Linked DNA regions of Homo sapiens: region 1 is linked to region 2. Evidence: fine-mapped expression QTL. A gene starts in region 2. The other region holds a variant in brackets. All regions are shown on one strand. Distances are from middle to middle. Region 1 holds the start of ZNF281 (zinc finger protein 281). Region 2 holds the start of LINC00862 (long intergenic non-protein coding RNA 862).

Evidence for each region. PIP is the estimated chance that this variant, and not a neighbour inherited with it, causes the effect.
Region 1: its variant is fine-mapped to the expression of LINC00862 in whole blood (TOPMed, PIP above 0.99).

The regions. Positions count from the first base shown.
Region 1 is chr1:200,401,973-200,417,552 of GRCh38, forward strand. ZNF281 (zinc finger protein 281) reads right to left here and starts at 8,064. Exons shown (of 2, transcript NM_001281293.2): 1 at 7,974-8,064; 2 at 2,979-7,751. The coding sequence starts at 7,733. The coding sequence ends at 5,046. RefSeq lists enhancers at 7,313-7,890, 7,891-8,468, 8,469-9,046, 8,593-8,642, 9,318-9,924 and 2 more and a silencer at 8,073-8,252. The variant A/C (reference allele first, on the strand shown) is at 7,763.
Region 2 is chr1:200,365,046-200,380,625 of GRCh38, forward strand. It overlaps LINC00862 (long intergenic non-protein coding RNA 862), which reads right to left and starts at 8,747. Exons shown (of 5, transcript NR_040064.1): 1 at 8,602-8,747; 2 at 8,048-8,124; 3 at 6,001-6,120; 4 at 3,620-3,826. RefSeq lists enhancers at 7,101-7,631, 9,028-10,227.

The DNA.
Region 1 (15,580 bases), 37 kb after region 2:
AAAAAGATGTAGGTTGGTTGTAGGTTTTTTCACTTTTGCCAAAAGCTACTCTGTGCAACTGAAGAACCACAGTAGTTGACTGTAATTGTTATAAACACAACTCTGTTAACAGAAAATACTGAACTACTGTCAAGTCTACTACCTATACGGTAGTTATTATCAGATGAGAAGTGCAAAGAATTATAAAATCTATTCAACTAATTACTTGACCAGCTTATCATAAACCTCTATGGCTTTTTGTAAACTGCCTTCCATAAATGCTAAGTAGTTAAACTGCAGATAAATCAATTCAGAAGCACCCCTAATATTTGATGATTTTCTTAGGTTTTAACTTCCTACTTATCTATACAATAAAATTTCAATATTTAGGATGTCTTCTAAATTCTTAACCTAGGGTCCATAACTAAGAATTTATTTGAAAGTTGGAGGAGGTCTTGTGAGCATGTAGACTGGCTTGCACATTTTCATTTGTTGATATATCTCTGCTAACGTACAGGGGGCGGGGGGCCATCAATTTATATCGGGTGCCCAGAGTCTGTGACCCAAAAAAAATGTTACGCTGGACTTGTATAAGTAAGCCAAAGATTCATAAAGAATTTAAATATAGTCTATTTAAATTAGTCACACTCAAATACAGTCAAGCATAAGATAACAGAATTCTAAGATGCTGTGTTCATCCTAATGTTCATTTTAAATGTTACCAAGGATATAAAAAAATAACGAGAATACAATATTTTCCCTCACTATCAGTAACTGTTTATCATTTCATGGAGGGTACAAGCAGATTGGTAAACCACCACAGATCCCTCTTCTTAAATACCAGGAGGGATCCCATAACAAAATATTCATGGAACATTACCATCATAACCTCACGCAACATGATGCATGGATCCTATCATAGCACTAACAAAGGAGTCTTGCATCACATTTTAAAAATGAAATCCTATCAGTATGTATCATAGAAAACACAAAGACCATAAAACTCAGAAAATGATAGTCTTCAGGTATGTTTTACCCTAAAAGTAGAAGTTCAGAAACTATTTTTGGTGAGGGAAGTTCTTCTGCTTAACAAGAGCCTATGAATTTGGAAGGTAAAAATTCCATGTGACCTCATGAAGCCATATTGCTCAAACTGTCACCCAGTTCAGGCTTAAATGCTACTAATGGCAAGTAATTACAAAATGCCAGATGACAGGAATGAATACAAACTTTTGCCTCTCTCATCTGATGAGCATAATACGGAAAACTAAAGTAGAAATATTTGTATCAGTTTGCAACTTTTTAAAAACATGCTAAAAATTATAGATGTTTTTCCACTGTTCCCATTTTTAAATTACCTCAAAAATACTGACCAGCAATTGCTAAATTATGGTAGTCCTTATTCTGAATTTCCAGTAGCACAACAGAAATCCAAAAGCATTGTTTCCTACTTCATACCTTAACTTCTTAAAAGTAAAAAAAAACCTTAATTTTAAAATGATCATATTCAGAGACAGACATTCCACAGAAGAAATAAAGGCAGGTGGATGGGTTAAAAAAAAAAATCAATCTGTTAGGGCTAATCTAGAATAGAGAATAAGTCACCTGTGCAAAGAAATCAAAAATTGGATTTCAATATAGAATCAGAGATTCTGCTTAGCACTCTTGTTCAAGAAAAAGACCAAATCTAGGAAATACACTTGGGCAAAACAAACAAAAACTGACATTTCCTAATCACAGACTCGCCAGTACAGATAATCTCTACAGAGAAATCCATGCTTATACTTAATATCTTTATGATTTCCTGTAATACTATCATATACTAAAAAGAAAACAAAGCCTCAAAGACCTATTCTACCCTTTAATATATTTATTCCCAATTCCTCAACACTGTAGCCACTAAATTTCAAAACACAAATGTCTTATGATCTACTTTTTCCCTTCATACTTATAAGTTTACTAATATATTACATATTTACTAATTTTCAGTTTCTGCATCTCCATTATTTATAGGTTTAGCTCTTTCCTTCTAATACTTATACTCTCAACATTTTAAAACATTGCTGATTTAATAATACCTTCATCCTAACTAAAATGCTCAAGACTGTTGTAATCTAAATCATACTGTCACTTTATTACAACTTTTTAAGTAAAAAGTTTTTTTTCCCAAAACTGGTGCCACAGGATATTACAACATTTTTGAGGCAAAAAAGGATGCACCTAAAACCAGAAGATATTGGAATCTGATTTAAAATAAAGCCTCAATAAATAATTTCTCTGGAGTAATATTAGGATGGCTAACCCAATTTCAAGAAAACATTGATTTATATAATATTAAATTTCTATTCTTCCATATTATGCACCTAAAACATATTCAACGTTCATAAAGTATTCAATGTTCATAAAATGTTGAATGTTTTCATAATGTCATAAAACTGAATATTTTATGAACATTGAATATGTTTTAGGTGCATAGCAATATGGAAGAACAAAAATTTAGTATTATATAAATTTGAATCCTTTTTTTTTTTTTTGAAACGGAGTCTTGCTCTGTCGCCCAGGCTGGAGTGCAGTGGCACAATCTTGGCTCACTGCAACCTCCCCACCTTCTGGGTTCAAGCAATTATCCTGCCTCAGCCTCCTGAGTAGCTGGGACTACAGGCACACGCCGCCCCACCCAGCTGATTTTTTGTATTTTAGTAGAGACGGGGTTTCACTGTGTTACCCAGACTGGTCTCGAGCTCCTGAGCTCAGGCAATCCACCCGCCTTGGCCTCCCGAAGTGCTAGGATTACAGGCGTGAGCCACCACTCCCGGCCTTGAGTCCATTTTCAACTAAAATAAACCTAGAAACACAAAATACCTAAGTTAAAAAAATACAATTAAAATACAAGCCTCTAAACTGCAGGTTATACCACGGATGTGAATATTTTAGAAAATGTTAATAGAAAATTCTGAAAAACGTTACTGGATATTAAGTAATATCTCCTTTCTTCAATCTTGTGATTAACAGGACTTTTATTGGTAGTAAACTAGAGCAAACAATCAGAATAATACATATGCAGTATTCAGTACACACAATAAAAGTTAAAGAAATTCAAAACCTGTATAAAACAAACTGGAGAAAAATCATACAGCTTAAGAGATACAGTGGTAAAGGTCCTCTCCATCCTTTGATTACAGCTTGTACTCTGTACTCAATAGAACTTACCGCACTTACTGAAATAAGAAATAAACACTTTTTAGTACTCAGCGTATTTAAGATTAAGTACATTTTCTAAGAATCTTGCAATGACAAGTTGGTGACCCTTTAGCTGCTAAAGCTAAAGGGAGGAAAGTGGGAAAAGGAAATTAACTAATACTTTGTAACCATTTTTAATATTTCTTATTTTCCAAACACTGCTTTTATAACAGAAGTGTTTTACACTTGCACAATATTAATTACTTTATTATACATGGAAGCCTGCGGTAGGCTGATTACACAATAAGACTGCAAACAACCAGTGGTACTTTTCTGACGTCAGAAGAGTACATAAGACTGAAACATCACCAAAAGTACATAAAAAACTCATCAGCATAAACATCAAAGTACATTAAAAAATATAATCAGGAAAAAAATACAATTGCTAAAAAGCAGTTTTAGAGTAGAGCCACTGCCAATCAGTAGCTTCAAATGGCAATTAGAGTTCATAGCAAGTTTTGATGACTTTACAAGACCCCTGTACAATACTAATGCACCCTTTCATTAAAATGTACATTAAAGGCCGCAATTTCACAAAGAGGTTCTGATGTTATTACTATAAGCAGACACATTCTTATCCCTCACAGGAGTTATGTCACCAGTTGGAATTACAACCTTATTAATATCTATCCAAGAACACGGGGTTTTATTACATATGGAAATCTGTATGGGTTTTTTTTTTTTTAAAGGTGGGTTTTGGGGATGTTTACCCTATTGTTTTTTATTTGGATGCCCTAAGGCATATAAAGCGCATAGTGAATTACCTACTGGAATGTAAATGGTTCTAAAATTAAAACTGTTAAAATAGAAAGAGGGAAAAGGAAGGCCCAAGAACTCTTAAAGAGAGGCTGAGAACAAGAACAAAAAAACCCAGAAGTGTAGGTAATACGTAACAGCGCAGACAGAACCGTTGTAGGCCATGTATAATAAATAATGCATGCCCCAAATTTCAGTTAATCATATAATTTCAACTTGAGTTCTAATACTGGAACCAGCCAACCACTTGGGCTTCAACACTGTACTAGATGTCAGTAGAATCGCTTGATGGAATTACAGCCTTGTTACAGTTGAGATCAAGAGAGGGTGCTTTTTTTTTTTCCTTCTTTTATTAAAGCTATCATTCCAGGCTTTGATCAAAGATCCAAGAATATTTGTTCTACCAGGCTGGAATGAATGTGGTTTGGAAGTTCAGAGTACATTTAAAAGCTGCAACAAAATATAGGTAGCCAACAATCTCAGAATTTTGGATCAGCCCAGATGGAGATAGCAATTTGAAATGTCTTCGATCCCTTACTTAAATGACGAAATGTCTATCAGCCCAGATAGAGCAATTTGAAATGTTTTCGATCCCTTACTTAAATGATGAAATGTATATCATACTATCTGTAAATTGGATATTCCATTACAGTGATAACGTACAGAATTCCCATGCGTTATTACACTTTCCTGAGAGTAAAGCAATTAGAATAACCTTAATCCTAGCAACAAAGTTTTTTTTGTAGGTTTTTTTTTTTTGGTTTTTTTTTGTCTTTTTTTTTGCGTTTAAAACATTTGGGCTATTCCCTGACGATCTATACATGTAAATTTGATTGCTAAACATTGTCACTTTGAATGTCAAACTATTTTTAATCTATTGATTTTGATTAAAAATCATAATACAAACAGAGCTAAAATCACGCTAACAAAATAAACTAAATATGAAAAGTTGCATTGAAAGGGCATCACATTATTCTTAATAGGATCGTGTAGAAACATTCCAATGGCAGTGTTCTCAAAATAAAACAAAATTACATTAGAAGACCTCCAGCCTGGCCACTTTTGGGACCTTACCTGTAACTCTGGCTGGTGGGTGTCTTTACTCTTGTACTACATGGCTCACTTACATCAGACATCATATTTGTATACCCTGAGAAATCTGACACTGAAGTCCTTACTCTATGGTCCACTTCTCCATTAGAGTTAGTGATAAAGGTCATTGGCACCCTGCTGCCCGACTTAAACTGAGAACCAAACGCTTGTGCAAAGTTCTCAATCTGATACGTTGTTCTAGGCTCTATGTCTTTCTGAGGATCTATCTGGCTAGCTAACTCCTGAGATGGAATCTGAAAGCCTGTTGAAGACTCTAAGTTTTTCTGTTCCTTCTGGCTAGTCAATTTCTGAGATGAGGACTGGAAGGCTGATGAAGTCTCTAAGTTCTTCTGAGAATCTATCAGATCATCCAGCTCCTGGGAAGGTGTCAACTGCTGATGTGTAGCATCCAAAGCAGACAAATAAAGACCTGGCTGAGATCCAAACAACATCCCAAAAGGAGGCTTTGGCAATGAAGATGGCAACACTGAGGTAACAGATTGGCCGAAACCACACTCCAAAGGAGACGTAGTGTATATTTGTTTTTCTGGAAACAAAGTGTGGTTGTGGAGAGGTGAAGACAAACTGACAAATTGGAAACCGTGTCCAAGAGTAAAACTTGCATTAGTGGATTTTTCAAAAGCCTGTTGGAGGTATTTGGAGTATTCTTGCAACATACTTGCTTTATCATTTGAAGGTGTTTGGGTGCCTGGGCTCAAATTTTCTTCTTGAACCAATTCTGAGTGTTCTCCTGAGGTGTGTAAATCCACTCGTGGTTCTGCAATATTGAAAGGATCCTCTTTCTGGCTTTCTGATTTGTTGGAGTATTGATCCAAAATACTTTGTAAAACCTCATCAGGAATTCCAGACTTGTCATGACAAGATTTAATTTCAGCATTTAGAGCTGAGGAGTCAATAAGTGACAATGGTGCCTCATTGTCCAAAACACTGACACCTGCAGACTGAATGACAGACTGTTGGGAGACCATGTGTCCTACGTTTATAGAAAAGGCACTGTTGCTGCTGGCAGTTGGTAAATATCTTCTTTTCTTTGAAAACTGCATGGCATCATCATAATTACTACTTATCTGACCTTGTTTGCCACTTGTACTTTGGAGAAGACCAATGGTCTCCACACTATTATTTGATACTATGCCAAGTGAGCCACTTGGTTTTCCAGACAAGGATTTCTGTCCTACTATGTCTGGTAATGGTGACACAAAGTTAAGGTAGTTTTTATCTGTATTCTTTCTGCTTCCTTTCTTAAAGATCAATTTTGGCACCCTCTTCTGCAGTTCATCTATTCCAGTGCCAATTATGCCTCCACTGGAAGACACGGTAGGCATTTCTACTGAGTAACTCTGCATGTTTATATTATTTGAAATTTGCGATTCATTTGTTTTACCGGTCTTCTGTTCCTTATTTTCAATAGCTATGCTTTTTGACTTTGTTTTTCTCCTTGAAGAACTTGTATTTCCCTGAGACAACACAGCCAGATTACCCATATTGGTATGGTTTGATGACCCAGGTTCTGCACTAGTGGCTCCTTTAACTATGACTTCACCACATGTGCGCCTGTGCTTCAACAATCTATCAGTCCTTGAAAAATACTGTTGGCAAGTGTCACACTTATATGGCTTTTCTCCACTATGTGTCCTCTTGTGTCTCTCCATATGGTACTTCTGAATAAACTTCATGCTGCACTGATCACATCCAAATGGCTTCTCTCTACTATGAATTTTCTCATGTCTCTGTAGTAGGTATTTCTGAATGAAACCCATACTACACTGGCTGCACTGGAAAGGTCTTTCTCCTGTATGAATGAGGACATGTCTCCGCAGGTGATAGGAGCTTCGGAAAGCAGCACTACAGTGATCACAGATATGAGGTTTCTGACTTGGGGAGAGGATGGCACCTTCTCCATCTCCAACCAAAGAAGGTTTGGAAGATGCACTTGGCTTCCTCTTGGCTTTGATTCCCTGAGATTCTGGCTTTGGCCTTTTTGCCTTTTTGACATTAGTGTCCTGCTTTGGCTCCTCAGTGCCATGGTGGTCATCAGTCCTGCTACTGCTGCTGAGTAATACGTCACGGTGGTGCTGGGCTGGTTGCTGCTGGACATGCTGGTGGAGAATACTGAGGTCCTGGATGACGCCGTGACTCCCCCCTTCACCGCCTCCTAGGCCTGGAGACCTCTCTTCAGCTCCAGCGAACAGCCCCCCATAGTGGTGGTGGTGATGGTGGTGGTGGGACTGCTGCTCCTCAGGATCCGCGGGTTTCTCCTGTTTGATGCTAACCAAAGACTGCAAGAACCCCCAGGAGGTCCTCTGCGAGGGGAAGGCCGCGGCTGACGCCGCCGGCTCCTTCTTGAAAGTCATGTCCGGGGCTGGCGGAGGGGGGGGCTCAGCGGCCGGGGCTGCGGAGGTAGAGGAGGATAACACGCATTGCGGGGGAGGGGCGGCCGACCCCGCCGGCCGGGTGAAGCTGGTGACCGGGGGAAGACGGTGGTTGAACATAACCATACCCTGGGGAAAGGTGGGTTCCATCTCTGCCCTCCTGCCGCTGCTGCCGCCGCCGCCGCCGCCGCCACTACCACCGCCGCCGGAGCCGCTACCACCGCTACTGCCGGTACCTCCGCCGCCACTCAGGAACCCACTGCCGATTTTCATACCCCGGAGGAGGCCTGGCTGAAGAAAGG[A/C]GGAGGAAGAGGGAAGAGGGAGGAAAGGAGGTGGAACCGGGCCCCGGGCCGGGACCACCGCAGCGCTAAGGACCCCGCCGCGCCGCCGCCCAGACCGCAACGCGCCCAGCACTAATTCCCAGCCCAGTCGCCTCCGGCACCGGCACGCATGGTCCTGCGACTCTTCCCCAGGCCTCGCCCTCTCCCTCCTGGACCCACCGGCAATACTTACGGGTCCCGCCGCCGCCGCAGCCGCCGTCGCCTCCAGTTAATAAAAATAACGCCGTCCTCTCCACAATGGAATTAAAAGCCTCCCGTGTACTGCGCAGCCGCGGCGCAGTGTCTGCTGGGAACTCCTCGACCCGGCCAGAGGGGAGGGCTAAGGAGCCAGGGCGCCTGCGCCGCAGCTTCCGCCCGGCCTGCCTGTCAATCACTGGGGCCGTTGGGCGGAGGCGGGGGAGCAAGGGCAGGGGAGGCGGGGATTTGGAGCCCTGCTAAAAAGGGGCTTTCGAGGCGAACAGGCGTGATTGGTGGGCTGCACTGAAGGAGATGAAAGTGGTTGAGGGTTTCTGGGGGAAAGACGCTCAGGAGGTGGAACCCAAGGGGCGGGAAGTTACGGGGGACTGTACTACAGCGTGGCGTGGGAGATGCAGAGAAAGGGGCTGGAAGAGAAGGTGAGGGAAACTGAGGATTCAATGTTAGGGCTTTCTTCACTCTAGGTTTTGCAATCCAGGTCTTGAAATAAAATTCAAACCTAGAAGTGGATCATTGAGGGCACTTTTGATTCTATCAAGAAGCATTCAACTCCAAATGCTCAACATTTATTAAAACAGGTGCTTATGTTATCCCTTTGAATTTGGAAGCACTAATAATGGGCGCATATCCTTTGCATTTATGGGAGGAGCCTGCTTTGAAACCGCAATTAGTGGTACCGTTGCAACAAAAAAAAAAAAAAGAAAAAGAAAAAAACTTGTCTTACTGCCAACCTTCCTGAAGGCTACTGGAAGAGGAAACCGAGCGTAATCCAGGTGCAGCAGTCCTGTAAAACACGCCCACACACATACTTCATTATCATTACATCTTATTTAAATGCCCCCGTACCTTAGCCTGGCTAATCAGTCTGTTTGCCACGTTATGAATGCCTGGCCCTTTATATTGTTTATGAAAAATTAACCACCAGGCCATTCTAAGAGCTCTGCTAGGATCAACTCTTTCCTCGCCAGTACAGAATACCGAGAAACTCATTGCAAATTTAGAAATTTTTCTTGTAAGGGAAAATTATGAAGTAAAATCTTAAAATCAAAGTTATATCAACAAAATCAAACAACAAATATTTATTCAGTGTCTAATGTACACAAGGCACTCGATTTCATGTTAAGCATGCAGAAATCTAAACCAGACACTTTCCTAGCAAAGGATATTTATAAATGAGAAATTTTAAATAAAAGAACTAGAACTATGACAACAGCTTATTTACATAGTATGTTTTCTTAATGAAGTTACATGTACATCACAATGTTTCTAGCTAAATAACTTCTCATAATTAAATAATAAATTCTCTGGGAAATTTCACAATCGAAACCATAGGGATTATTTACTAATACTTATGGACCTCTCTCAGCCTGCCCTAAAAATTTTACAGACAATATTTAATGAGAATTTTGAGATAAGAAGAAATTGCTTTTTTTCTAATCCCATGAAACAACATGTAAGTATTCCACCACTTAAACTGACACTTTAATACTGTCAAGTATAGTTGTGATATTGTGAAATATATATTTGGACTTTGAACCGTTTTGTGGCATACAACTGCTAAAAATCCTTGGAATCTGCAAAGTAATAAATGTCTTTTTGTATGCTAATGAAGCGACTGATGATGGCTGGCAACCCCTAGGTAGCTTCAGGATGGGGGCTGGTCACCGGAAAGACCAAGGCAGGATTAGAGTTTGGGACTTTCAGTCCCACCCCCCGACCTCCGGGGAGGAGAGAGGGATTGAAGGTTAAGTTGATCTTCAATGGCCAATGATTTAATCAATCATGCCTGTGTAATGAAGCCTTCATAAAAACCTAAAAAAGGACGGGGTTTGGAGAGCTTCCTGTAAGCGAACCCGTGAAGGTTCCAGGAGGATGGCGCACCCGGAAAGGGCGTGGAAGCTCCGCGCCCCTTCCCACAGACTTTCCCCCATCCATCTCTTCATCTGGTGTTCATCGATAGCCTTTGTAATGTCCTTAATAGTAAACCGGAAAACGTAAGTGTTTGCCTGGGTTCTATGAGCTGCTCTAGCAAATTAATCAAGCCCAAGGAAGGGGTCATGGGAACCCCGATTTACAGCTGGTCAGTCAGAAGCACAGGTAAAACTACCTGGGGCTTGTGATTGGCATCTGAAATGCGGCCGGCCAGTCTTGTAGGCCTGGGCTCTTAATCTGGGGGATCTGATGCTGTCTCCAGGTAGGTAGTGTCAGAATTGAATTGGAGGACACCCCAGTGGTGTCTGCTGCAGAATTGATTGCTTGCTCGGTGTGTGGGGAGAAACCCCTACACATTTGGTCGCAGAAATCTTCTGTGTTGATTGTTGAGTGAGAGTATAGGAGAGGCTGAGTTGTTTTTTTGTTTTTGTTTTTGTTTTTTTCTACAATAGCTAAGTGTTAAAGACTGAAAGTTCAAAAACTTAAGGCAGTCGTAAAATATTAGTCAACGCCTGTGAGAAATGAGGCTGTCCCTTTATTCAGGGTGTCAGTGTTTAATGGTAAGCTGGGATGCATATAAGCTAGTCCAAGCATGAAGGGCAGTAGGACACTCATATGAAAAGCCAACTTTGTTCCTCAGTTATCAAGATAAGAAACCTGTCATTTCTCTCATTCACTCTGTCAGCCTTGAGATACTCCAAGCAGACTTACCTCTGTGTTGTACACCCCATATATCAGGAAGATGAAGAGACCCTGTAAAATAAAATGGAGGGGAAAAGCTGTTAACGCTAATCATTTCAGCAGTAGAAATACCTGAAATAAACTTTCCTGGGAACAGACAAAAGAAGACACACTTCATCAAGGTCAATTTATTTTCCTATTTTTCAACATTAGAAGGTGTACCTTGAGCATTTATATGATAACATAGCAAGCACATCACTTATAATGGTTGTGCTATTCAATTCTTTAGAAGTACAAAATAAAAATACCATCCCAAGTACAAAGAATATTAATTAGAAAAATCAATATACCAGTTCTGAAAGATAGCTGGGTAATGAAAAAATTAAACTCAGGAAATGTTATTAAAGTAATCATAGAAATAACACTAAGCATCAGTATTTCCAAGCACTGTTTTAGACTGTAGCAACTAGAATATATTTGTTACAATCTTCAACAGGGTTAAAATTAAAAAAAAAAAATTATAAAGCAGCTAAAAGAATAAACTTAAGGTAATAAGTATGAATAGGTTTTGAAATAATACTTGAAATACCAGCTCGAGATAAAATTTCACATTACCATCTGTTGTGAACTGCATACATTTTTATTGTAATCTATATATGTAACAAATATTCCAAAGATGTTGATTAGTCTTTAGCTTTAGAAAATGCTTAATTAATTAGAAAATATAAATTCACTTTTAACTCTAAAATCTTAACTTTTAAAAGAAAATAAAACTATATGCTTTAAACTTAGAGAAAACAGACAGCAAAAAATTTTCACTTCAGTGAGGAAATAAAAATCTACATTGTAGTATTCTTGTTAGGTACTAACAAGCCAAATATTAAATAGGAGTCTGTACTAAATCTAGAAATGGTTCAAATAGTTAAGTAATATGATTCTTTCAAAAGTAAAATATTAAAGGAATATTTTAATATTTGTTTATCTCTGAATGCTTAGATTTTACAGATAATGGAAACAATCCCAGAACAAAGAGATTGTATAAAACTAGTGATTCTTGTTTTTATTTAGTTTCTTTTTAAATAGACTTTGTTTTTTACAGCAATTTTAGTTTTACAGAAAAATTGATAAGATAGTACTCAGGCTGGGCACGGTGGCTCTTGCCAGTATTCCCAGCACTTTTGGAGGCCGAGGCGGGCAGATCACCTGAGGTCAGGAGTTCAAGACCAGCCTGGCCAACATGGTGAAACCTCGTCGTTACTAAAAATAAAAAATTTGCCGGGCGTGGTAGCACATGCCTGTAATCCCAGCTACTAGGAAGGCTGAGGCAGGAGAATCACTTGAACCCGGGAGGCGGAGGTTGCAGTGAGCAGAGATTGCACCACCGCATACCAGTCTGGGCCACAAGAGTGAAACTCCGTCTCAAAAAAAAAACAACAAAGAAAGATAGTACTAACAGTTTGCATATATCCGATACATCCCCAGTTTCCTCTATTTTTAACATTTTACATTAGTATGGTATATTCATTATAACAAATCTAATTCAATACTACTACCTTTATAATTTCTGAAACTAAAACTGTTGCAATACATACATTTGTTTTAATAAGAATGATTAATGAAGAGTTATGAACAATAAACAATTTCCATTTTGATAATAAACTTTTAAAAATTCAACTATAGCTACACTTTTTTTTACTGTGTATACACGATGTCCCAAAGTTCAATACCAACACTCACTTTCCTCCTTCCAGTAGCCTTGGTCAAGATCCATTTAGTGCAGACTAAATTCAAGCCACTCAGTACTTGAGTTTAGTACTCATTTTATAGGCTACTTGTTTGCTCCAATTCTGGATAATTCTAAATAGTTAAGAAAAAAAAATCTTTTTTCTGATTTATGTAAAAACTCTAAGATAATTAAGAGTCCCTCTTCCCTCAATAATTGTTAATTTTTTATTCCTTATTTTGCTGCATAAATAAAAATTTAAGAGTAAGTCATTCAAATTTTAATTCTATTTATGAGATAGGAATATTTTGCTTTGTACAATAGATGAGTTCCTGAACAAATAAAATTTCCTGAACAAATAAAATTTCCTGAACATTGAACAACATGCATTATTATTTCCGTATAAGAAACCCAGCTGTTTATGTGAAATCTATATGATGCTTTGAAAATCAAAGAGCTAACCAGGTGCAGTTGTTCACACCTGTAATCCCAACTCTTTGGGAGGCTGAGGCAGGAGGACTGCTTGAGGCTGGGAGTTTGAGACAAGCCTTGGCAACATAGCAAGACCCTGTCTCTACCAAAAATTTAAAAGTTAGCCGGGCGTGGTGCTGCATGCTTGTAGTCTCAGCTACTCAGGAGGTGAGAGGATCACTTGAGCCCAGAAGTTGGAGGCTGCAGTGAGCTATGATCGCACCACTGCTCTCCAGTCCATCCTGGCAACAGAGTGAGATCCTATCTCTAAAAAATAAATAAATAAAAAGAAAATCAAAGAGCACTTTAATAATGGTATAATCACCCTTGTAATTTATCTGTCTTGTAAGTTTTATTTTTTCCCCACGTTTTGGTAAACTGAGAAAGTAGAGTATGCTTCATATTTTTATTTACTACACTACCACGTTACTTATTATACATTTTTAATTTTAATACATTTAACCTTAAATGTAAAATGATCACAACAAAAATATTCCTTTTGAAAATAGGATTTAGAATTTAAAAGGATTTTAGATACAGGCAGCTTCCATCTCAAAAGCTTTTTTCTCTTTTTGCCTGTCCTCAACAGATGTACACCTAACAGCATGGTAAGGAAGCCCCAGAAGGATGTTTCTAAAGACCATGAGGGAGTCTGAAACCTGAAATCATGCCAAGGACTCTCTGCTTCTCTTTCACTTGGGGTGTCTATCTGATGCTGCCACAACCAGTTGAAACGTATAACATTAACAATAAAAATTAGTTTTTTTGTAACTAATTTTATGCCCCATAATTGTATGCCCCACACATGATGTCTTTTTTCTCCATTAATTTTACCAGGTATTCACAGTCATGATCATTTAGATCTAATGCCACAGAACTTCATAAACCCTTTACTACTAGAAAAACATCCTATTTTCTCAAAGGGAAGAATCACAACAGAAACAGCTAAACATAAACATCTTAAGCCATACTATGAGCCACTTTTAAATTCCTGCAGAGAGGATACCTTTAAAAACAGCTGGAAGGAACCAACTGCCAAACTTCAACTGGCACTGTGATTTCTGGAACTCCTTATAGCAACATTCTGTCCTACTAAAGAGTCAATACTGAAAGTATGTCACATTTCTGAATTGAATGATCTCTCATGTCTGTTAGGTGGTTTCTACTATTCCATTTATAGAACAGTTCATCTGTAATGTATTAATATATGAAGTATTTTCTATAGAGGTACCTATTTCTCAATGCTTTAGTCACAGTAAAAATAACATTAATTGGGCAGGAAGCATCCAAAGTGTAGCTGGATTCCTGTAGCATGCGTGTACTTTATGGGCAGGGGCCAGGAGTTGGGAAAGAACACCAGGATATTACATCTGATACTGTACAGAAGTTAAAAATAGAAACTAAGGGAAAGAGAAAAAAACATTCTTGATGATTTCATTCTCATTTATCTATGAAACATTGAAAACTGAGGCGACTTTGTAAATATTTACACTGTTCTAGAAGTCTTGAGCATTATCTGCAAATAGATTCAGTGGTTGACATCAAGTCTGTTGTTATATTGATCTGTACTTTTACAGTACACTTCATGATTGTTACAGAATCAATCTTTTTTAAGTGGTAATATTTTCTTTCTTGGCAACAGAAAGAACAGGACAGGTGCCCCATACATAGCACATTGCCTCCTCAGGAATAAGAATAGTATTAACAGTGCTAATATCTGGATAGCTCTCTCAAGCACTTTCATTTACATAAACCCATTTGTTCTTCACTACAACATTGCAAAGGAGGCAGTGTGAGTATTATTAGCTTTATTCTTATATATGGGGATTTTGAGGCTTGCTCAAAGTGCCACAATGCTGACAAGTTGGCAGAGCCAAGGATTACTGTTTGACTCCTAATAAATGCTCTTTCACACACATTGTCTTAAATAGACACCTTCATAACTCTTTTTTTTTTTTGAGACGCAGTCTTGCTCTGCCGCCCAGGCTGGAGTGCAGTGGTGTGATCTTGGCTCACTGCAAGCTCCGCCTCCTGGGTTCATGCCATTCTCCTGACTCAGCCTCCCGAGTAGCTGGGACTACAGGCGCCCACCACCATGCCCGGCTAGTTTTTTGTATTTTTAGTAGAGACGGGGTTTCACAGTATTAGCCAGGGTGGTCTGCCCGCCTCGGCCTCCCAAAGTGCTGGGATTACAGGCGTGGGCCACCGCCCCCAGCCAACAACTTCATAACTCTTAAGTCACTAGCTTCAAGATAATGCAATTGGTGAGACTTTTCAAAGCTCAAGTTTATTAAAAGCATATTGCAGTTTGATTAGCTCATAGGGTTAGGGACTCAGTATTTAGTAATAGGGCTTCAAGTAACCCTGGTCCTCCACCTAGCAAGTACAACAAGAAATGCAGTTGGTAACAATGATTTTCAGTAGCTATGGGCCAGTTTCTGCCTCTTGTACTTTCCTTATAGATTCTCATTCAATGACGTATACTTTCTGGTTGCTGGGAAACTTACCTTTTGCCATCAAAAAAAGGCTGCTAGGTAACCGTATTGTCAAATATTCTTATTGTCATCATTTACTGAACTTTTTTGAATGTATGTTACTATGCTGTGTACTTTTATGTATTTACAAATCCTGTTCCAATCTTTCTTTTTTTGTTTGTTTGTTTTGTTTGTTTGATTTTGGTTTTGTTTTGAGACAGAGTCTCACTTGTCACCCAGGCTGGAGTACAGTGGCATGATCTCGGCTCACTGCAACCTCCGCCTCCCAGGTGCAAGCAATTC
Region 2 (15,580 bases):
AACTGTAAAATGCATAGGTAAAATGTCAAAGAGTACTTTAACATTTAGGAGGATGTCTCTTCATATGTTAAAGCTAACAAATGAGGCCAGGCGCAGTGGCTCAAGCCTGTAATCCCAGCACTTTGGGAGGTCGAGGTGGGTGGATCACTTGAGGTCAGGAGTTCAAGACCAGCCTGAACAACACGGTGAACCCCAGTCTCTACTAAAAATACAAAAATTAGCCGGGCATGATGGCGGGTGCCTGTAATCCCAGCTACTCAAGAAGGCTGAGGAGGGAGAATCGCTTAAACCCGGGAGGCAGAGGCTGTAATGAGCTGAGATGGCGCCACTTCACTCCAGCCTGGGTAAAAGAGCAAGACTCTGTATCAAAAAAAAAAAAAAAAAAAGCTGACAAATATTAGTCATATTTTTAATTGTCTTACCTTTTAAAATTCCCAACAATATCCTAACTTTTAAAAGTTATTCTAGAACATGACCTTGCCTTCTAGTTCCTGTTTATAGTGATGAGCTACACATATCTTTGTGCCTGAAACAAAGACTTCTTTGCCAGACTCTGTGCCTGCTAATTTCCTTCAATTCATTCACAGAGTCTTCACTGCAACTCCCGTAAGTAGCTACTATTATCCCCATTTTACAGATGAAGAAGTGTGTCTATGAGAATTGTTCTAGTGATAAACCTGAGACTTAAACAGAGTCCTAATACTCATGCTGGATTGTCCATTGTTATAAAGAGCTGGGTTTGTTGGTTGGTTATTTGGAGAAATTTACACATGACATTTGGTTATGTTCAAAAGAATCTCAGGCCTGGCATAGTCTTCATACATTCAGCAAACAACAGTTAGGCATCGTGTCAGGTGTGGGCAAATACAAGGACCACCCACAGCTCTCTACCCTGGAAGTACCTTCCCCACCCCTCTACAGGGTAGCAGACAGACAAAGAGGAATCATCTCCAAGAGATACAAGGGCCACCCACAGCTCTCTACCCTGGAAGTACCTTCCCCACCCCTCTACAGGGTAGCAGACAGATAAAGAGGAATCATCTCCAAGAGTTTCTTCTGGACTTTGCTCTATTAACTGTCCCATTGCCTTCAGGGGCACATGCGTAACTGTCTGAACTGAAACATTTCCACTGCTGATTCAGAAATGTGTTCACCCTAATTATGGGCACAGAATGCTCTGAGGAACACAGGTGGGAGGGGCTGTCTCGGGCCCTCTGGATGCCTTCACAGAGAATATGGCTTATGAGCTGAAGGTTGAAGGATGAAAAATATGTCACAAAGCAAAGTGAAAGGGCCCAGGGCAGCATGTGCTGGGCCTGCCATGTCCAGCAGGGGACCCTGGGGCTGAAGTAAGGCCAGAGGTAGGAGCAACAGGGGGAATGGGGCAGGTGGGGAAGTGGGTTGTAGGCTGGGAAAAGACCCAGAAGGGGATTTTATGCTATGTGAGGAGTTTAGAATTCAAAAGATGCAAAAGGGAACAAACAATGGGGGGTTTTTTGTGTTTGTTTTTGTTATTTGGGTTTTGTTTGTTTTTCTGTTTGTTTTTGGCTAAAGAAGGAACAAAGATATCTGTAACTGGTTGTGATCAATTAGTTGTAAACACTGTTGCACTTGACCAGCCCCAGCCGTGGTTTTTATGCAGAGGAGTCATAGGACCAGATTGGTATTTTAGTAATGCTCGTGCCAGGGTAGAGAATGGGTTGCACAGAAGGCACAGGGCTTGACAGATCAGATCAAAGGCTGTTGCAACAATCCAGGTTGGATCCAGTCCAAACTAATGGTGTGATCCTGCCATTAAAAAAAAGGAACTCACTGGAGAAGTTTCTGAGGTTCGGGGCATGAGCTTTGGAGTCAGGTGGGCTGAATGCTGGTTCTCAACCTCTTCTTAGCCATGTCTGTAACGTCATCAAAACCTCACCTTGCTTATTTCATATGAGATGAAATCTGCTGTCTGGGTCATTTTGCAAATGAAATTGGGGTTCATGCTCAACTGCACAAGGTTCTCACTCCATCAGTGGTGACAGTGATGATGATGATGATGATGATAATGACAGACAATACTTTGGTGACTGATTGGCTTTAGGCTGAGGGTAAGTGACAGAAGAGTACAGGATACCTCCAAGGTTTCTAATTGGGTGAGTGAAGGCACACATTGTCAACCGGGCTGGGGGCACAGAAAGAGGACCTGGTTTAGAAAAAAAAAAAAAAAAGTAGTGCATTTGGTTTTGAACATGTTGTGCTAAGGACACCTACCAGAATTTGTTTTATGAACAGTTAGTTGGAAATACAGATTGAAAGAGGAGTCAGGGCCGGGCTTGGTGGCTCACACCTGTAATCCCAGAACTTTGGGAGGCCGAGGTGGTCGAATCATGAGGTCAGGAGTTCAAGACCAGCCTGGCCAACATGGTGAAACCCCATCACTACTAAAAATACAAAAAATTAGCTGGGCATAGTGGCGGGCGCCTGTAATCCCAGCTACTTGGGAGGCTGCGGCAGGAGAATTGCCTGAACCTGGGAGGCAGAGGTTGCAGTGAGCCAAGATCGCGCCACTGTACTCCAGCCCAGGCGACAGAGTGAGACTCTGTCTCAAAAAAAAAAGTAAAGAAAGAGGAGTCAGGGCTAGAAGTACAAATTCTTGAGCCATTTGGGATCATGTCTGAAGCTGTGGGAATGAAGTTTCAGGGAACACTAATACATATGGCATATTGAGAAGAAACCAGAGTAGCAACGATTTTGTTCAAAATGAAAGCTCTGATTCAGGATTTTCAGAAACAGAGAGCCGTTAAACAAATGTACATTGAGAGCAAACTACATGCCAGGCACTGTCCTGGAGCTGGAAACTGGAACATACAAGCCAACCCATGGAAAGCTCACATTGTCACAGAGGAGACAACCCTGTAATAAACCTGGTACCCCAAAAGAGGGAAAACACCATGAGGGAAGTAGGCAGGGTGCAGGCAGAGGGTGAAGATGTTGAATGCCTGGGGGAGGCCCAGGCTAGCTACAGGGGCCAGGTAAGGCCTCCCTAGGAGAGGACATTTGAGCTGAGACCTGAGACTAGGAGAGCATTAACTGAGGACTTATTAAGTACAAGGCTCTGTTCTAAGCCTTTTAAGTACATTATCCTATTTAATCCTTACAACAACCCAATGAGGTAGGTGCTGTTATTATCCTCATACTAAAAATAAGGAAACTTAACCACAGAAATGTTAAGTAACTTCCCCCACACAGCTAGCAAGCTGGCACAGAAGACCCTGACTCAGACAGTCTAGCTTCAGACAGCCCGTGCTCTTCCCCGCTGCACAAACTGCCTCTCACTGTCTGTGATAAATGCTCCTATTAATAGAAAATGAGTTCAAGAAGGAAAATGCGATCAACAGTGATCACAGTGGTTCAGAGCACAAAGGCTTCATCTAGAAATAATTTTAAGTGCTTGGTCTTTGCTATGTTACTACTTAAAGTGTGGAAGCTTCATAGAGAATTGGTCAGTAGCCCCAGATTCAAGTGTCAGCTTCGCTATTCTCTAATTTCGTAACCTGCGGACAGACAAGTAATGACCTCTACGAACCTTCATTCTTTTCACCAGTAAGGTAGGTCTAATACACAACTCCAAACTTACCATGAAGATAAAGAGATTCAATCCACATACATGACAATCTCTAGCAGACAATGTTATCTTCAGGAGATGGCTGATGCTGGGGAAAGTTTCCCAGTACAGATAGCACACCATGACGTCTTCGTAAAAAGATGAAGCTCAGAGCAGGTGCAGCACTGAAAACAGGACACTTTAGGTGACAGCCTACAGACTGCTATTCTGAGAAAAGATCTTCAAGGGGTAGAAAAAATCACTTTTAGAACTCCAACTGGTCTTATCAATTTTTAAGGAAAATTAAATTTGTCATATTTGCCATTGTGAAAATCAGCTCAAATATACAACAGGAAAGCTTATTTCACTGAAACTCAGTTCATTCCAGACTCAATAAAAAATGACAGGCTTCTTCTGTGTTCTACCTTTTCCTCCTCTACTTTCCTCTTTCCAGACAATAAAGTATTGTCCCTTGTGAGGTAGAAACAAAACAGCAACATGAAAACAAATTCTAATAGCTCATGGGAAGGACAGACATCATGATCCCAAAGTGCTATGTTAAATGCCTTAAGAGGCACCACTACTGTGCAATGGTGGTCCAGAAAGAGCGCGCCCAGCCAGCTGGATCAGGAATGATTATGAAGAGAGGATTTGATCACGGCTTTACAGGGCTTTAAAGGGCAAACTACGGTTTCCTGCAGTGGCTTTGGTAGAGAGCATCCACAAGGCCCTGAGAGGCATGGCTTTGCCTGCCTTTGTCTCCTACAGCATCCACCACTCTCCTAGCCCCAACTGCCAGCCACAAGGGCAGCTCTGCTCCTCTCAGGATCCTCTGAGGCCACCCCTACATGCAGGGATCTGCACTTGCTCAGGATCAGAAATACTTCTGGTCTGTGAATGAGCTTCACACTGCTGGTCTCAAGGGGAATATAACCTTCTCTGTAAAGCCTTCGCTGAGCACCTGCCCCTCTAAAGTTCCCACCTGGACATGCCCCACATCCACCCCCGTCACTCCTCCACACAAACTCATTAACATTCTATTTTACTTTCTTTATAGTACTTATAAAGTACTATGGAAAATTATCGTGCTCAATTTTTTTACTGGATTATTTTCTGCCCATCCCCATCCTCTGCTAAAAATTGTTAAGTCCCATAAATGCCTAGATATGGTCTTTCTTTTTCACCCTTATATTCCCAGCACCTGGCAGGAAGTAAAGAGCTCAATAAATATTTGTTGAATCAATACAGGAATGCAGAAGAGCATGATCAAGTTGCAGAGGCAGAAAAGTAAAAGCTGAGTTTGAGAAAGTGGTAAGTTGCACGTTCTGGTCCAGCTGGGCATGGATAGATGAGGTGGGACAGGTTGCTTGCAGAGGACTTGGGGCAGTTTGGACTGAGTAGATAGTGCAGAGCTTCTGAGAGTGTTTGACCAGGCAAGGCCCTGAGCAGTGCTGTCCTTAGAAAGGATTAGGCCAGCAACTATGAATAGGATGAACTGAAATAAAGCTAGAAAGCCCAGGGAAAACCATTTGTTACCCCTAAAATTGGCAAAGATTAAGAAGTCTGACAAGTGTTGGAAAGTATCTGGGGAAACAGTTTTCCAACAGTTGAAAATCAATTTGGTAATATCTCTTAAAAGTTAAATTGTGCATATTCAAAATGTAGCAATCCTGCATCTAGGAATCAAGACTAAGAAACTATTGCCTATATATTAGTGAAAAAAATATAAACAATCATATATTCACTAATAAATGGACTGATAAAATGTGGTATTATTTATGCCATGAAATGCTAGACAGCAAATAGCCGGGTGTGGTGGCTCATGCCTATAATCCCAGCACTTTGGGAGGCCAAGGCGGGCAGATCACCTGAGGTCGGGAGTTTGAGACCAGACTGGCCAATATGTTGAAACCCCGTCTCTACTAAAAATACAAAAATTAGCCGGGCTTGGTGGCAGGCGCCTGTAGTCCCAGCTACTTGGGAGGCTGAGGCAGAAGAATTGCTTGAACCCGGGAGGCAGAGGTTGCAGTGAGCTGAGATCGTGCCACTGCACTCCAGTCTGGGTGACAGAGCGAGAGTCTTTCTCAAAAAAAAAAAAAAGAAAAAGAAAGAAAAGAAATGCTAGACAGCAATTAAAAATAATGAATATATATATATAGATGGGTGTGTGTGTGTGTGCACGTGTGTGTGTGTCTGTACAAAAACATGGCTAGACCTTAAAAACAATGCTCAGAGAAAGTAAACAAATCATATAACAGTTGGCTGGGCATGGTGGTTCATACTTGTAATCCTAGCATTTTGGGAAGCAGAGGCGGGAGGATCTCTTGAGGCCAGGAGTTTGAGACCAGGCAACATTGTAAGATCCCATCTCTACAAAAAAAAAAAAAAAATTAGCCAAGCATAGTGGCACAAACCTGTAGTCCTAGCTACTTGAGAGGCTGGAGCAGGAGGATCACTTGAGCCCAGGAGGTCGAGGCTGCAGTGAGCTATGATCATGCACTCCAGCCTGGGTGACAGAATGAGATCCTCTCTCTCTAAAAAAGAAAACATTTATGTATATTTAAATCCATAAAACAATACTACATATTAACTATGGGTACATACAAATATATATAAAATATTAAAAAGTATACAAACTGAACATGGGCTCTGGGAAGTGAGGACAGAAGGAGGAAATGGACTTGGAATTAATATTCAAAGGCAACTTGATTTTATCATCAATGTTTTGTTTTATTTCTTTAAAAAAATTGAAGAAGATATGACAAAAATAATAACAGTTGTTAATTTTGAATGATGGGAATATAGTAGCGTTTACTGGGAATCAGAAGAGAGATGCTAGTCACAGATGGAAAAACTAACAGGATTTCAGGACTGGGTGGGTTAGTAGAGGGTATAAAGTTGCCAGAAAGAACGAAGAATAAAAATTATATTCTTTCTTTTCTTTAACAATGAGAGGCTAGCCACACCATTAAAAGAACTAAAAAACAATGAGCTCCACTTTAGAAAGGTTTGTCTTATTAATGAGACAGCCAAATCATGGCCAGCAAAAAGTCAGAATTCAAAAACCCAAGCTGGCACTGACAAGCTATCCTGCAAAAGTAAGGAATAAAATAGGTGCCTCATTCAATATCCTCAAAAAAAAATTTTTAAGACTTTTTTAAGGTCCATAGAGAGTTCACTTTGTGTATTTGGCTTGTTTACAACATATATAGAAACCCAACCACAGTGTCCTATACTCAACAATTGAAAGTGAGGTTACTAAATTTTAATACACATTTCTAGAAAGCCTGGGGGTCTGACTCTGAAAATAAGCCATTCTAGTAAGACAACTTGTTAAGAGTTTCCTTTCAGTAAGCAACATCGACTAACAGAGCAAACAATGATCCAAATTTACACTGTTCGAATTAAAATTTCAAGCATTAACCTCTATTTTGAAATCAATCTCCCTGTCTTTACATAAAGATTATCAACTTCCAATTATCAGAAGAATGCAGCTTATCTTTATTAAAATGTACCCCCCCAATATTTCATGATATTTACATGTTTGCATAGTACTTTCCTATCCTTTTGTAACATGTTTTGCAACTCCTGAAAAGTCAATAGTCTTAGCTCTTCTCTAAAGGGGGAAACACAAGAGACTGAGTGACTAGTTCAGGGTGACTCACAGGCAGAGTCAACATTGGAACTCGGAACACTGAGCCTGGCATTCCAAGTTCCCAAAACCTTGAGGCTCTTGCTAATCCCAGCAGAATTTTCTTCTTTACAGGGCTGTGCTTCTTTGAGGCCTCTGAGACTAGAATGTTAGTGTCCAAAGCTTTCTCTTTCAAAAGTAGTCAATAGTCAGAAATAAATGTTGGCCTGCAAGTTCAATCTTTTTCTTTTTTTTGAGACAGGGTCTCACTCAGTTGCCCAGGTTGGAGTGCAGTAGCACAATCATGGCTTACTGCAGCCTTGACCTCCTGGGCTCAAGCGATCCTCCTGCTTCAGCCTTCCAAATAGTTGGGACCACAGGCATACCCCACCACACCCAGCTAATTTTTAAAATTTTGTAGACATGATGGTCTCACTTTGTTGCCCAAGTTGGTCTCAAAGTCCTGAGTTCAAGGGATCCTCCCACCTTGGCCTCCCAAAGTGCTGAAATTACAGGTATGAGCCACCGCTTCTAGTCCATCTTCACTTTTTAAAAGGCATAGCTAAACTGCATTGATACAACCTAATGATCTCCCTAATTAATGTAACTTTGCTGGTAATTGTTTTTTTAGAGTCCTCTGTTTAAGATTGGGTTAAATTCAAATCAAATGGTACTGTTTAAACTGTTTGCTGTTTTTTGTGTTTGTTCCCCGTTAGTGCTATCTTGGACATGCTGAGCTTCTAACTGCCACAGGGCTGTTTTGCTACTACTGACCTTATAAAGCCAACAGTTAGTGACTGTGTATATAAGGATTTAAGAGATTATTTTACCAGAATAAGGTTGCTTTGTAGCCATCCGGTGTAAATGGTGTTTCTTTCCATTAACAAATTGAAGAGCTCTTAAGCACCTGAAATTAAATAACAGCTTAAAAAATAAATTAATATACAAAAAATTTAGGTTTACTGACAATATCAGATTATTTCCCATTAAAAAAAATCACCCAACTCTTTTTTCTGATGCCTTTCACGTGGGACTTCAAAAAGCTTTTCCAAATATTTTCACTATCTGTAGTTCTCATTCTAATTTTGTAAATTAAAAAAAAAAAAGAGCCAAATAACTGACCCAAAGTTATGCAGTCAGTTGGTAGTAAAAGCCAAATAAGAGCTCAAATTTAATCTAGTCGTTAGAATCTGCCACAGTGTCCTCTTCGCTAAGTTGTACTACTGCCTCATTTTATTTCCCTTAAAAAATAATTGTTTGCATATCAGTTAAACTGGTCACATTGAAATATAAAACACGCCAGTATTATCAAGAGGTCCTTTCTTAAAGCAACAAAATACAATCACCTTTGTGCTAAAAATAAGCTATAAAAATAATTGTGTACCTTATAAATTTATCTACAAGTTTTAGCCTTCATTATATTCATTAATTAAACTGCCATAAATCTTCCTTTCCTATTGCTAAGATATTCTTAAACTTGCATACAAAGCACCAAAATGCACATCAGCCACAACACACACAAATTCATCACTCAATCTCGGTCCATTACTCTTGCCAAGGTCAGTATAGAATATTCTTGAAATTTTCACTTGTAGAATGAATAGATGTTTTGTAAGGATTATCTATTCAGGCAGAAAAAAAGGGGGGAGGGGAAGAACACAAGAAACAATTAGCTATTCAACTGGTACTGAGCAAATTCCAAGTACGGAATCCTTTGTTTGTTTTTATCTTGTTTTTGTTTTTCTTACCTACCTTGGGACTCCAGTCCACGAGAAGAAATACATCTTGTGAGATTTTTGTACAGCCTTTCTACAAACCTCCGTAGAGAAGGAGACGTTGTTGTCAGTTTTGGCTTCCTTTTGCAGTCAGGGACTGGGACCCAGAGTTATCTATTTGCATTTCAACACCCTTCTTTTGTTTTCGGTCCCACAAGAGGCTCAACCAGTTCAAAAGCAGGTAAGGCAGTTAGATCATTGTAATGACCCTAGAAAACTCAAAGGAGAAAACTTTTGCAAACAATGTGGTTATTTTAGCAAAAAACTACTACTTATTTCATCAGTCAAGCCTACAGAGCTCAAGCTAGACCATCTTGTTAAAAATTTACCTTAGGTTGTTCTTAATTCTCTCTGTGCCCTAGAGAGAGAAGAATGATGGTGGAAAGCAGGGTTAGAGAACAGAGAGGAGGAGAGTTCTGCATCCAGAATCTCTTCTGAATAAACAAATATCGCTAAAATATCCAAATATTCACAGGAATTTACAGGTCACATTATTGCATTTGATTCTGAGAGCAACAGCCTCTGTCATTTCTGCTGAAGGAGCATTCCTATATAACTCTAACAAAATTAAGAGAAAAGAATACTTTCTAGGTGGAGAGAGTTGGAGAGGACGGGTAAAGGTGCAGCCATCCCAGTGTCTGAAGGACACTCAGACACAAATGCTGCTGGTGTATACTTCCTGTCACACCCACTCAGATGACTACATGGTCAAGATTCCAGAATGTGATCCCGACGACAGCTTTCTAAGCATTTAATATTCCAAGAGGCATCAGCAGATAAAAATGTGCAGAGTTGCAAATTTTTAATAGAAAAATCCCCCAGGGTCTATGTTGAAGGTCAGTGTTTGGGAAAAGGCTATATTATAATGGGGCTATGGAGTCACAGATTAGAGACGGAAGGGACCATAAGGTTCATTTCCTCAAGGTCCGTGGTTACACAGCTGGTTTGTGACAGGCTATGAGCTCTCTGGGGTCTCAATCTCACGCTCTTGAGCTTTTGGTTACCAAACCTGCTTAGATGAGATCCACAGTGAGGTTATATTGTAAAAATTCTAAGACTTGGCAAGTCAGCCTATAATGAAGATATATATGCATAGACTTCAAAGGACTGACCTTGTCATCACCTACAATAGCTCTGCCGCAAGATTACTGATTCAGGCATTCAGCTTTTGGATAAGCATCTTTCCTTCCAACTTGCATGACAACAACTCCAACTGCTCTTAGAAATATTGGGGCCTCCAGTCTATTGATCCATCTGCTTTCTCCCAATTCATTAGCCTTCAGCTGTTTTCACTTTCCTTCTTACTCAATTTTTATTCCATGGTCTGTTATTACTATATCCTTTTTGCCAATCCCTTAAACTCCCTTCCTCTCTGTTTTTTCTACAAACCTATCTAGGAAAACGACAGCCCTCATTGAACCCCGCCATCTCCTTTCTCTTTGCTTGCACGCAACAGTCAAACTCTGCTGGAGGTGATCAAAAGCGTAGATAGGTTCATCATCACCAACTTCTTATGGGCCCTCAATACTAACAACTACATTTTTGTTTTATTTTTAAGAAATGGAGTCTTGCTCTGTCGCTTAGGCTGGAGTGCAGTGGCATAAACACAGCTCAACGCAGCCTCCATCTCCTGGGCTCAAGAGATCCTCCTGCCTCAGGATCCCAAGTAGCTGGGACTATAGGCACAAGCAATCATGCCCTGCTCTAACAACTGTGTTACGTTTCTTTTTTCAACTTATTTTCCAAGAATTATTTGAAACTTTCTCCATCACCCGCAAGCTTCCAATACACCCATCTTTCTCTCTTTACTCCTTCATCTTCTGCTTAGATGAGGATTCTCTAGATCTTTTTCCACCCAGATCCCTGCTTTCCCTCCTGCTTCAAGGTGAGTGAGACTCCTCCACAACAAGGGAAATCCCTTCTCTTTGGCCTTGTATTCTCTTCTCTCATCATCACCCACAACCTTTTTGTCATTTTTTTCTCATATCACATCATTTTCATCAGAAAAGCCTATTGGTTCTGCCTTCAAAATATATCCAAAATCCAATAATTTATCATCATCATCACTCCTACCCCCTCATCGAAGACATGGTCATCTCTCATCTAGACTATTAATGGTCTATCAACTTTCACCATTGCCCCCTTACAGTCTATTCTCAACAGTGATCTTTCGAAATCATAAGTCAGAGCATGTTCCTCCTCTGCTTAAAACCCTCCAATGGCTTTCTATTTACTCAGAGTAAAAGCTGAAGTCCCTACAAAGACCTTTAATACCCTACCAGCACTGTCCAGTAGAACTTTCTGTGGCAATGGAAATGATCTACATCTCACTGTCCAATACAGTAGCCACTAGCTACATGTGGCTACTGTGCATTTGAAATGTGGCTAGTGCAATTGATAAAATGAATTTTTAATTTTTAAAATTTTAATTAATTTACATTTAAGTAGCCACTTGTGGCCAGAGGCCACCATATTGGAACACTCAGCTCTACAAGATCTATTCCCCATCCACCCTATCCACCTCTTGCCTGAGCCTATAAAAGCCCACAACACACTATAAAAACTCCTTTGAAGTCAGATGATGTCACTCCTCTGCTTAAAAATCTCTATAGTTTCCCATTTTACTCAAAAGCCAAAGAAAGTCCTTATCTTGATTTACAAGGCCTCATATGATCTGGCCACCTCACCCATCTCTCTGACCTCAGCCTCTAGCTTAATCTCTTCCTTGTTGACTCCACTCCAGGCACAACATTGCCCTCCTTAGTGGAACACATCAAGTATGCTATTGCCTCAGGGCCTTTGCTCATGCTGTTTTCACTGCCTGGAACATTCTTTTTCCCAATATTCATATGACAAACTCAGAGCTCCTTCACTTCCTTAGTAAGCACTCTGCTACAAGTGTCTTCTGATGAGAGGCTGATCTGACCTTACTTGATCTGAAAGTCCTATCCAAAACAATTCCCTCCCACTTGATCACTCTCTATCTCCATACTCTGTTTGTTGTTGTTGTTTTTAAGTAGAGAAGTAGTCTCACCATGTTGCCCAGGCTGGTCTTGAACTCCTAGGCTCAAGTGATCCTCTCACTTTGGGCTCCCAAAGTGCTAGGATTATAGGCATGAGCCAACATGCCTGCTCTCTGCTCTTTCTTTATAGCACAGATCTCCATCTATGTTTCTTTACTTATTACTTGTCTCCATCAGCAGGGGCAGCATCTCTGTTTTATTCACAGCAGTATCCCTAATACCTGAAACAGTACCTGGCTCAGAGTAGGGTCACAAACACGCACACACACACACACACACACACACACACACACACACACACGGCTGAATTTGATGAGTGAATACACATGGCCCTATGGTGCCAAAGACTATTTACAAGTCTCAACACTGGTCTACAACCCAGCACTCTCCTGCTGCTATTCCCTGGGGAGAGGTTGGGACTGGGTTCCTCTCTAAGTATAGTATCCTCACTTGCAAGAGGGCAGCTGGGTGCTTAAACTGTATCAGCTCTAATCTTCACCACAATCCATTTTACCAGTTTGGAAACAGACAGGTTAAGTAAACTACTCAAGCTCAGCTAGAGTGACCCTCACCCTGTTTCTTATGAAGGGGTTTCCACAGTCAATAGAAAACTCTTCTACAGGCAGCTACAAAGATATGCATTGAAGTGACCACATAGCTTCATTATAAATCTCTTTACTGATTCTATGCCTTCATAGGGAAAAATGAGAATAACTACTTTTATAACAGACTAAATGAAAATTAATTTCAGAGAGTTTATAGAAAATGGCCAGGTGCAGTGCCTCAAGCCGGTAATCCCAGCACTTTGGGAAGCTGAGGCAGGTGGATCACTTCAGGTCAGGAGTTTGAGTCCAGCCTGGCCAATATGGTGAAACCCCATCTCTACTAAAAACACAAAATTTAGCTGGGCATGGTGGCATACGCCTGTAATCCCAGCTACTCAGGAGGCTGAGGCAGGAGAATCATTTGAACCCAGGAGTCAGAGGTTGCATGAGCCAAGATCGCGCCACTGCACTCCAGCTTGGGCAACAGAATGAGACTGCCTCAAAAAAATAAAAATACAAAATACAAAAAGAAAATGAATGTTATTTCCACTTTCATTTTTACTCCTCCCCTAACTGGCCTAAGTTTTTCTTACCAAATTGCCATTAGATTTTCAAAATGCTATGCTAAATAAAATACTGTTGGCCTTCATGTTTGAAAATGATGTTGCTGAGAGTGCTATTTTTTAAGCTAGAATTTTTACAGTCAGCAAATAAAGTAATGGTCGGTAAATTCAAGACCAGTTCCACAGAATAGATTGACTTCCTTTTAACCTGCTGGGCAAGAGTGAATGCTATTTTTTTTTCTATGTTTAACATATTCATGAGGAGCAGGGATAGAGTAAGTACATTCAAGCCACAGGTAGTCAAAATAATTTTTTGCCATTGGTTTTAATTATATATGCCATGATATCTTCTGGTAGAAATGACAAACTATAAAGATAGGTTTGTGCTTCACATCCTATTCTTTTCCATTGTTGCCTGACAGAAGCCCCAATGAATAGGGAAATTACATCCTTGGCTACAAAAATGGGCATGCAATTAGAATCATCCAACGGACAAAGAACCTAAAAAATTTTAGGGATTTTGGCACTCCTGTTTCCAATATCTTTGCTTCTTAGAAGGAAAAAACTCAAGTCAAGCAATTTGCTGCAAAGCACAGACACTGTGACACATTCAGCAAGGACCAAGGTGTCCTAATTTCCCTGCAATCAGTGTTTTCTTTTTTTTTTTTTTTTTTTTTTTTTTTTTTTTTTTTTTTTTTTGAGATGGAGTCTTGCTCTGTCACCCAGGCTGGAGTGCAATGGCATGTCTCAGCTCACTGCAAGCTCCGCCTCCTGGGTTCAAGCGATTCTCCTGCCTTAGCCTCCTGAGTGGCTGGGATTACAGGTGGATGCCACAACACCTGGCTAATTTTTGTAATTTTAGTAGAGACAGGGTTTCACCATGTTACCCAGGCTGGTCTTGAACTCCCGACCTCAGGTGATCCGCCTGCCTCAGCCTCCCAAAAGTGCTGGGATTACAGGCATGAGCCACTGCACCCGGCCCAGTGTGTTTTCTTCGGAAACCAATGATTATCCTCCAATTGGTCTGGAAGAGAGAGAGAATCTCCACAGAAAACCTGCATATAACTCTTCTGGCACTGTTCACAGTTAAGAATTGCAAATTACTTTACAAAATTACTTCTCTCAAAATACCCAGACACCTGGCCACAGACTGCCAACCTAATACTAAAATAGGCACCTTGATCAGCTCACGCTGTGACTTTAACCATTCAGCTGCATTTGACCACAGCGACAGATATCTTTGCCAAAAGAAATATGAAAAACTCTGGGAGCTGATTGCAAAATTGGGATTGGTCCAAACTTTTCCAAAGTGATGGCTCTGTTGTCTGGAATGTCTCACAGCCAGGACATTTTTCTCAACACGTCAGCTCTATATAATGAAAGCAATAAGAAGAAAATCAGATGTGCACAGAGCTTTTCTCTCTCTGCCTAATATGGGAATAATAATTAACTGTCCAAAAATGTAAGCACTGGCTCATGGCTGATGATTCACCTTTAAAGTTGTGCAAAGAAAAAGGCCAAACCTTTTGCAAAGCATGTATCAGTCATAAAAATGTCTACTTCCTTTGACACAGTAATCTTATTGCTGGAAACTGATCCTAAGAAATGATCCAAAAGAAAAGATGTTCACTACAAAATATGAATCAACCTAAATGCCCAATAATCAGAAAAATGTTAGCTATAGTACATGTTTCTAATGAAATACTATATTATCATTAAAAATAAATTATGAAGACTGTCACAATATACAGAAAATAGAGGATGATATTAAATTGAAAAGCAGAATACAGATGATATATGTGCATTATGAATATAACCATGTTCAAATATATTTGCACAGAGGAAAAATGGAATAGCAGTATTATGGGTGTTTTTTCTCTTTTTAACATTTTGTAATGTTGATCTACTGTTTTATATGTAGAGAGAGAAAGGGTCTCACTCTGTTGCCCTGGCTGGAGTGCAGTGGTGCAATTATAGTTCATTGCAGTCTCGAACACCTGGGCTCAAGCAATTCTCTCACCTCAGCCTCCTCAGTAGCTAGGACTACAGGTGCCAGCCATTGTGCCAGGCTTGTTTTAATCTTTTTTTAAGTTATGTACAATATTTCATATTCCTTTCTATACAATAAACCAGCACATAAATAATTTTTAAATTATCTAAAATAGCTAGCTCATTTCAAATATTTGTCCTTTAAAAATTATGAGCAGGACACTTGCCCAACATTTGACAACCAGCAGAATATCCATGCCAGTTTTGCTTCAACCCCTCTGACCACTCCAAAGTCAACATAGATTCACCTAAGCCCAGAATATAGTCGGATCAGAAAGGCACATGGCTCTGCCCCTGAAAAACTCCTGGCTCAGGCCCTCCCCTAAAGAAACCAGCCAGGTGGTTCCATGGGGATCTGGGTCCCGAGCCTCTACTACTATTTCCAGGGAAGACCTGGTTTGTGAAAAC